Linked DNA regions of Homo sapiens: regions 1 and 3 are each linked to region 2. The links come from fine-mapping of genetic effects on gene expression. A gene starts in region 2. Each other region holds a variant in brackets. All regions are shown on one strand. Distances are from middle to middle.

Region 1 (2,762 bases), 70 kb before region 2:
TGTGGTGTGGCTTGATCTAAGAACACAGTCTACCGTTGAGAGTCTTAGTAAAAGAATTCCAGGAAATAATAACTTTGTCAAGTCCAAGACAGGCCTTCCACTTAGCACTTACTTCAGTGCAGTGAAACTTCGCTGGCTCCTCGACAATGTGAGAAAAGTTCAAAAGGCCGTTGAAGAAAAACGAGCTCTTTTTGGGACTATTGATTCATGGCTTATTTGGAGTTTGACAGGAGGCGTCAATGGAGGTGTCCACTGTACAGATGTAACAAATGCAAGTAGGACTATGCTTTTCAACATTCATTCTTTGGAATGGGATAAACAACTCTGTGAATTTTTTGGAATTCCAATGGAAATTCTTCCACATGTTCGGAGTTCTTCTGAGATCTATGGCCTAATGAAAGCGGGGGCCTTGGAAGGTGTGCCAATATCTGGGTGTTTAGGGGACCAGTCTGCTGCACTGGTGGGACAAATGTGCTTCCAGATTGGACAAGCCAAAAATACGTATGGAACAGGATGTTTCTTACTATGTAATACAGGCCATAAGTGTGTATTTTCTGATCATGGCCTTCTCACCACAGTGGCTTACAAACTTGGCAGAGACAAACCGGTATATTACGCTTTGGAAGGTTCTGTAGCTATAGCTGGTGCTGTTATTCGCTGGCTAAGAGACAATCTTGGAATTATAAAGACCTCAGAAGAAATTGAAAAACTTGCTAAAGAAGTAGGTACTTCTTATGGCTGCTACTTCGTCCCAGCATTTTCGGGGTTATATGCACCTTATTGGGAGCCCAGCGCAAGAGGGATAATCTGTGGACTCACTCAATTCACGAATAAATGCCATATTGCTTTTGCTGCATTAGAAGCTGTTTGTTTCCAAACTCGAGAGATTTTGGATGCCATGAATCGAGACTGTGGAATTCCACTCAGTCATTTGCAGGTTGATGGAGGAATGACCAGCAACAAAATTCTTATGCAGCTACAAGCAGACATTCTGTATATTCCAGTAGTGAAGCCCTTGATGCCCGAAACCACTGCACTGGGTGCTGCCATGGCGGCAGGGGCTGCAGAAGGAGTC[G/A]ACGTATGGAGTCTTGAACCTGAGGATTTGTCCGCCGTCACGATGGAGCGGTTTGAACCTCAGATTAATGCTGAGGAAAGTGAAATTCGTTATTCTACATGGAAGAAAGCTGTGATGAAGTCAATGGGTTGGGTTACAACTCAATCTCCAGAAGGTGGTGACCCTAGTGTCTTCTGTAGTCTGCCCTTGGGCTTTTTTATAGTGAGTAGCATGGCAATGTTAATCGGAGCAAGGTACATCTCAGGTATTCCATAAAACCTACCAACTCATGGATTCCCAAGATGCGAGCTTTTTACATAATGAAAGAACAACCCAGCAATTGTCTCTTAATGCGATGACACTATTCATAGACTTTGATTTTATTTATAAGCCACTTGCTGCGTGACCCTCCAAGTAGACCTGTGGCTTAAAATAAAGAAAATGCAGCAAAAAGAATGCTATAGAAATATTTGGTGTGTGTGTGTGTGTGTGTGTGTGTGTGTGTGTGTGTTTTTAACATCCACAGTTAAGGTTGGGCCAGCTACCTTTGGGGCTGACCCCCTCCATTGCCATAACATCCTGCTCCATTCCCTCTAAGATGTACGAAGAATTCAGATCCTCACCATTGGAATCTTCCATCAAACATACTCAAACACTACTGGAACAGGACTTGAGTCTTTGCATGACATATACTTGATTAAAAGGTTATTACTAACCTGTTAAAAATGAGCAGCTCTTCGCTTTTAACAGATACCCCAAAAGTCTTCTTTTCTACATAGTAGAAGACGGAAACACCTTTACTGAATGTTTGAATAGAAATATCTACTAAATTATTAAAATAGACATTTAGTGTTCTCATAGCTTGGATATTTTTCTGAAAAGTATTTGCCAAAACTGAAATCCTTCCAATATTTTCCATGGTCCCATTAATTATAATGACTTTCTGTCTAGATCTTATAGGAAAGGATACTTTCTTTTTTCTTCCATCTTTCCTTTTTATATTTTTTACTTTGTATGTATAACATATATGCCTATATATTTTATACACTGAGGGTAGCCCATTTATAAATTAAGAGCACATTATATTCAGAAGGTTCTAACAGGGCTGGTCTTAAGTGAACCACTATGTATATCAATATGTTGGAAAACAGCTGTATACATTTTTGGGCAATGGTTATGCATAATATCTACCAGAATTTTTTTCTTAAACAGCCAACATTTAAAATTTATGTTTTATGTCCATAAAAGAAAATATACTTTATTGTGACTTCAACTATATTTCTTATCCCTTACATTTTTATTTAATTGTCTTAGCCTAAAAAAAGAAGAAACTGTGGAATACTACAGTAAATACTGTTTTCAAACACAAGCAATAATTCAAATAGTTTTCTTTTGAATTAATTTTAGACATATTTTGGATCCTATTGAGGGGATAAGAGGATGTCAAAAAAGTTAAATACCTAAGTAGAAAAAAATATAGAAATAAAGCCAGGAATCTCTTTCAGTTCAAATGTTATCAATTGTGAATAAGAAATTGCTATCTGGGATGACAAAATTATCTCTGCTTAGTATCTTATTATAACTGAAAAAAGGTTTATCATTATAAATGCCTTCCAAGGAAACCAAGAATTTCTCAAAATATTTAATGTCACATATTATAAGAAGTCACCTAATCTAGCTTCTTAACGTCAATCTTTAAAAATATCTT
Region 2 (2,764 bases):
ATCCCATTAGCTCTCCTAAAAGGGCTGAACATCAAAAAATTATTCAACCCAAGCCAAGTATCCTTATTTTGGCTGGAATTCTGCCAAATAACCACAAGAGACTGGTGCGGTACAATCGGCATGGAGTGAAGCTTGCCAAATTTGACCGGAGAACGACAAGCCTCCATGAATAAGCTCTCATGAAAAGGTAAACCATTCTTCAGGATGAGGTTTGTCTGCGATTTGAAAAGTCAGATTCAAAGGACTCTTGTTCCTTCCTAAGAGAAGAGGGAACCAAAATTGAAATTTTCGAAACTCCTGGGTATTTACAGTTCACTTTTACCAAGATGTTTTTAAAACTAAAAACTAAAATTTAAAAAAAAAACCCTTGTTCTGAATAATGCAATAATGTCTTCTACATAATGTTTCAGCTATTATTTCTAGAAAGTAATTCTGTTGCCAGTGATCTTGAATGTACTTGGGTACCAAAGAAAAAAGACACCTGTGCCTGGCAGGTCGATACGCTACTAATTTGCCCGAGGTACGAACGAAACAGAAGATGCTGATTTCTGGATAAAACGTTCTGCAGTGCCAGGTAAAAGAGGTCACATGCCCTGAACGGCCGCCGCTCATTTAGAGTGATGCAAAAGCTCCTCAGATATTAATTTTGTTAGAAATTCGGGGAATCAAGCAACCTAAGATCAATTCATTTAGACAGCGGGTGACTGGTACTTTCCAGTTTCCTTTTTTCAACGGACTCAGTGCATCCTAGCCTGATCTCTTATAAAGGGGTAGGCAAACTCGGCACCAGGTGCCCATGCATTTCAGGGAGGTACACACAGGACCTGCAGGGTCACCCATGCACAGCCCCACCCCGAATCTTCTATCCGCCCGAGATGGGGAAGACCCTTCCCCAGAAATCCTGGGCAGCGTTTTAAGTCACCGCCTGGCCAGGCTGAGTTTCCGTCCGCGTCCGCTCAGGACTGCGGGCACAGCGCCTCGTCACGCCCCGCATCTCCCACCTCCCGCCGGCCCCGGCGGCTGTCCCCAGAGCTGCGCCCGCGGCCGGCGACACGCGCCGCAGCGGCGCGCTTATCCGCAGCGGCGCAGCCCGCCCGCCCGCTCACTCACGCGGGAGGCAGCGGCGGCGTCTCCATTGTGGCTCCTCTCGGGCTTCAGAACGCAGGCACCGACCAACACAGCCAGCACCATTCCAGCCGCGGACGCCGGCACTGCCCGCCCGCCGAGCCGCGTTCCATCCGCCCCGGAGGGGGCGCCGCGCTCTCCTCACCGCGCGCCACCACCTGCGGCGGCGGCCCCCGCGGCCATGGCCCGCTCGGCCGGGCGCGCTCCGTCTACTGCGCGGCTCCCGCGCTCGCCCGAGTGCGGGGCGGCGGCGACGGGACCGGCGGGCGCGCGGGCTCGGCCACTTCCGGGTTCGGCCCCGGCCGGCGCCGACGCTGTGACGGGACTGCGATGCGGCCTCCCGCGGCGGCCGAGTACCCCTCCCTCGGCGCCTCCCCTTCCTCCTGCTGCTGCTGCTGCCGCTGCCGCTGCCGCTTCTGCTTCTGGAGGCGGGCGGGCGGGCGCCAGCCGGGTGCGGGGCGGGCGTGCCCAGACGCTGGCCCGCAGGCCGGGACGCGGGCGGCGGCCGCCCACAGCGGGTCTCTGGATCGCCGGGACGGGGGCGCTGGAAAATGGGAGCGGAGGGGGTTCTCCGTGCAGAAAAAGGGCGGCCGAACGCACGGCGTAATAATGCTCGGTATCCACTTGCTGCTCTGCTTCGCGGGCGTGTACACGTTATTCTTTTCATTTGTGCCTGTACCCAGGGAGATGGGAAGGGTAGGCATAACCAACCAGTGTCCTTACAAAGGGTGGCACTGAGGCAAGAAGAAGTGATTTGCCTGTCCAGTGTCCCAGGCAGGAAGCAGGCTCTCCCTCCTCAGTATGCTAGCCATTCCTTGGACAAGTGAAGTGAGCACCTGCTAAGCAAGGTTTTAGTGCTGCGGCTGTGACAGCAAAACCAAGTCTTTCTGCTTGTGGAGCTGTCCATCTAGACGGGGTGACGGAAACAGTAAGTGATGCTTACCATGAAGAAACATAAATGAGGATGAGGAGAGGGAAAGAGATTTTAGAAAGAGTGGTCAGAGAAGGCCTCTCAAAAGGCATGAGTTAAAGAGATGGAATAACAGGGGCTTTGAGTAATGCAAAGAATGCCTAGGGCAGAGGGAAGAGCAGCGTGGAGACTGCTAAGCAAGATCCTGCCTGCCTTGTTGAGGAACGGGAAGGAGAACAGTGCAGCTGGTGGTTCTCCAAGTATGCCCGCTGGAAGCAGTAGCACCTGCGAACTTGTTAGAGATGCGAATTTTCCAGTCCCACTTTAGCCCTACTGAACCAGAAACTCTGGGGGTGGGGCCCAGCAGCGTGTGCTTTAACAAGCTTTCCAGATGATGCTTGCTGGGGCCGCGAGGGTGGGAGACCCTCTAATGAAGCAGAGTGAGGTCAGGAGGACGGCGGCAGGAATGGGTGTGGCGAGGAGTAATCACAGATCACCCAGGCCTTGCAGGCCGTGATAAAGGACTTGGCTTTTACTGAGATTAGAAGCAATTAGAAAGTGGTGAGTAGCTTGATCTGATCATTAAAAGGATGACTTTTCTGGGATTTGTTTGAAAATATCCCACAAAAAGAAGGACAGAGGTCGGGCGCCGTGGCTCACGCCTGTAATCCCAGCACTTTGGGAGGCCGAGGCGGGCCGATCACCTGAGGTCGGGAGTTCGAGATCCGC
Region 3 (2,764 bases), 31 kb after region 2:
TGTGTTATGCAAACTGAGAACTGTATGGGGGTTTCCAGCCAACAACCATGGCTTAGCACCAGAAAATGACAGACTAATAATATTCTTGATCTGTACAATTTTGCTAACAAAGAGCTTTACATTTTGGAAGACATAAACTTAAAATACATTTGCACAAGTCCAGTGGATTCTGTGTGTCTTTCTGACTACAAAGGTAATGACAAAACTGCTGGCAGTGGGTTGGGAGGTGGATAGGTAGGAAGGATATGCAAAAGGCAAAAGAAGCCGTGTAAGAGAACAGTGACCTGTTTGTCAGGGAAAGGTGTTCTCACCCACGGAAGTGTTGTCCAGGCTTCACACCCTTCTTAAGAAGGCTGCAATGTACCCTAAAACTTAAAGTATAATAATAATTTAAAAAAAGACTGCAGTTCCTGTTGTCAGACTCCAAAACCATCCTGAGACAGTTATTCCTCACTGCAATCCTAAAAAACCACACCAACTCATGCAAGTCACCAGTCAAAACCCAAGTTATCTTTTTGTTGTTGTTGTCTAAAAGATCATGTTGTTTCAGGCAATCAGTCAGAGTCTGGTCTAGGGATCTTTTAGAAAAACATAATCAAGTCTGTGTTTAATACTGAATTCCCAATTCAGTAGGGTGTGTTAATGAACACTGACTAATTTGGAAATTATAATACTGTAGGGCACAGTAGCACTGATTTTAATTCTTACACAGGAAAAATTCTACCTCTGTGTTTGCCCTCACCTGCAATCACTGTGTATGCAGCCATATGTCTTTGAGAAACTTGGATTTAATTTTTGAAATATCATTTTAAGGGGCTTTATGATCTAACTGTTGTGATAGCTCAGTATCTGCCTTACAGGACTGCTTTGAGAAACAATCATCACATGAAGAATGCTTGTTTTTTTTAAAAAACAATCCAGAACTATATTGTCATTACTTTCAGGCTATATTACTGGTAGTAGTAGTAAAATGATACTTATGTAGGGCTAGACATATCCTTATCCAATACCCTTGAAGTCTATAATTCATTACCATAGAATTCCTGGTAATCAATCACACAAAAGGTAGCATTTCTTATAAGAACAAGAATCACAGAGGGGGAAAATTTTATAAAATATGTCCTCAAGGATGAAGATGTCACTATTTATTTACTATTAATAGACGTAAATTTTAAGATTCTTTCCTATAGTAGGGATGAATTTATACTGACTTATGATCCCTTTCTTGCCAAGATTTTCTCATAAGGGAAATATTTGTGTGACAGATGTGACAGCTGAAATATCATGTCTTATTAATCAGAAATGGGTCACATGGACATACG[C/G]AGGGTACTGGCTGGGAAGATTGGGGTTGTGCTTTGGGTTGGGTCTGCCAACTAACAGGGATGGGAGCTTCACCATCCCTCCCCTCATCCGTTTCTAACTTCATTGAACTCAGTGAAGCTCAGTAGTAGGGAAAAGAACAGAGATGGTTTGAGGCTCATATATAGAGAAGGGTGCTTATTTCCCAAATTACCTAATAATCAACTTTTACTTACAAAAGCTTAGGTTTGAAGGAGAAAGTGAGAGGGTTTACCCTACCTGCTTTCAAGACTTACTATTAATATTACAGTAATCAAGAGAATGTGATATTGAAATGGGGAGAGACATATAGAGATAGATGAATAGAACAGAATAAAAAGTAAAGAAATACATCCACATGTATACGGTCAATTGATTATCAACAAAAATGCCAAGGCCATTTAGTTGAGAAAACATGGTCTTTTTAACAAACAGCATTGGCATAATTGAATCTCTATATGAAAAAAGACCATATACACCATAAACAAATATTAACTTGAATTAATGTAAAAGCTAAAACTTCCGGAAGAAAATGTAGAAAAAAATATTTATGATCTTAGGTTAGGCAAAGATTTCTTAGAATACTTAGAAGGTGCAAACCAAAACAGAAACAAATTAATAAACTGGAGTTCATCATAATTAAAAACTTCTGATGTTTAAAAGATACAGTCAAGAAAACAAAAAGGCAATACACAGAAACTGTTAGTTTCCTTTCTTGCTGGTGATCTGGAGGCAAGATGACAGATGATGGATGAACAGGCAACAAGGCCGAGAAGAATGAGGTCAGTGAAATGCTGGCCAGCTGCCCAAACCAACTCGAGCTTGACCCGCTTTTGATTTGATGGCATTCCCCACCGTAACAAATTTTATTTTATTTATTTATTTATTTTCGAGACGGAGTTTCACTCTTGTCACCCTGGCTGGAGTGCAATGGCACAATATCAGCTGACTGCAACCTCCGCCTTTTGGTTCAAGCAATTGTACTGCCTCAGCCTTCCGAGTAGCTGAGACTACAGGCACACCATCACATCCAGCTAATTTTTGTATTTTTAGTAGACACAGGGCTTTGCCATGTTGGCCAGGGCTGGTCTCAAACTCCTGACCTCAGGTGATCCTCCCACCTCGGCCTCCCAAACTGCTGGGATTACAGGCGTGAGCCACTGCACCCAGCCCATAACAAATATTTATGAAGTCTCTACTGTGAACCAGGTACTGGCAGGGCACACAGAAGGACAGAAATGGAGCTGAAAGCAAACAGGCAATTGGCTGGCACAAAGAGAGAAAGATGAATGGCTGATTTTGTGAGACTAAATTAGTTCTTGATTTCAAAATGAGGTAAGGAAGATTCAAGGATTTAAAAATTATAGGCCTATTTTGCTTATAAACCTAACTAAAATGTTAGCTATCTAAATCCAACAGTGTATTT

Direction of the effects. Positions count from the first base shown, and alleles are read on the strand shown. Sizes are in standard deviations (SD) of each study's normalised expression. Not every link is listed here.
In carriers of allele G in region 3, the expression in testis of the gene that starts at base 1,452 in region 2 tends to be higher than with C alone (moderate effect, 0.40 SD a copy in GTEx).

What was found. PIP is the estimated chance that this variant, and not a neighbour inherited with it, causes the effect.
Region 1: its variant is fine-mapped to the expression of KLHL2 in whole blood (TOPMed, PIP 0.97).
Region 3: its variant is fine-mapped to the expression of KLHL2 in testis (GTEx, PIP 0.99).

Annotation. Positions count from the first base shown.
Region 1 is chr4:165,276,552-165,279,313 of GRCh38, reverse strand. All of the region lies in intron 5 of KLHL2 (kelch like family member 2), which reads right to left. It overlaps GK3 (glycerol kinase 3), which reads left to right. Exons shown (of 1, transcript NM_001395953.1): 1 at 1-1,507. The coding sequence ends at 1,330. Among named protein-coding and RNA genes, the nearest start is that of GK3, 1.8 kb to the left of the region's middle. The variant G/A (reference allele first, on the strand shown) is at 1,076.
Region 2 is chr4:165,206,249-165,209,012 of GRCh38, reverse strand. It overlaps KLHL2 (kelch like family member 2), which reads right to left and starts at 1,452. Exons shown (of 15, transcript NM_007246.4): 1 at 1,111-1,452. The coding sequence starts at 1,136. RefSeq lists a silencer at 1,151-1,800 and an enhancer at 1,331-1,831.
Region 3 is chr4:165,175,437-165,178,200 of GRCh38, reverse strand. No RefSeq gene overlaps it. Among named protein-coding and RNA genes, the nearest start is that of KLHL2, 31 kb to the left of the region's middle. The variant C/G (reference allele first, on the strand shown) is at 1,323.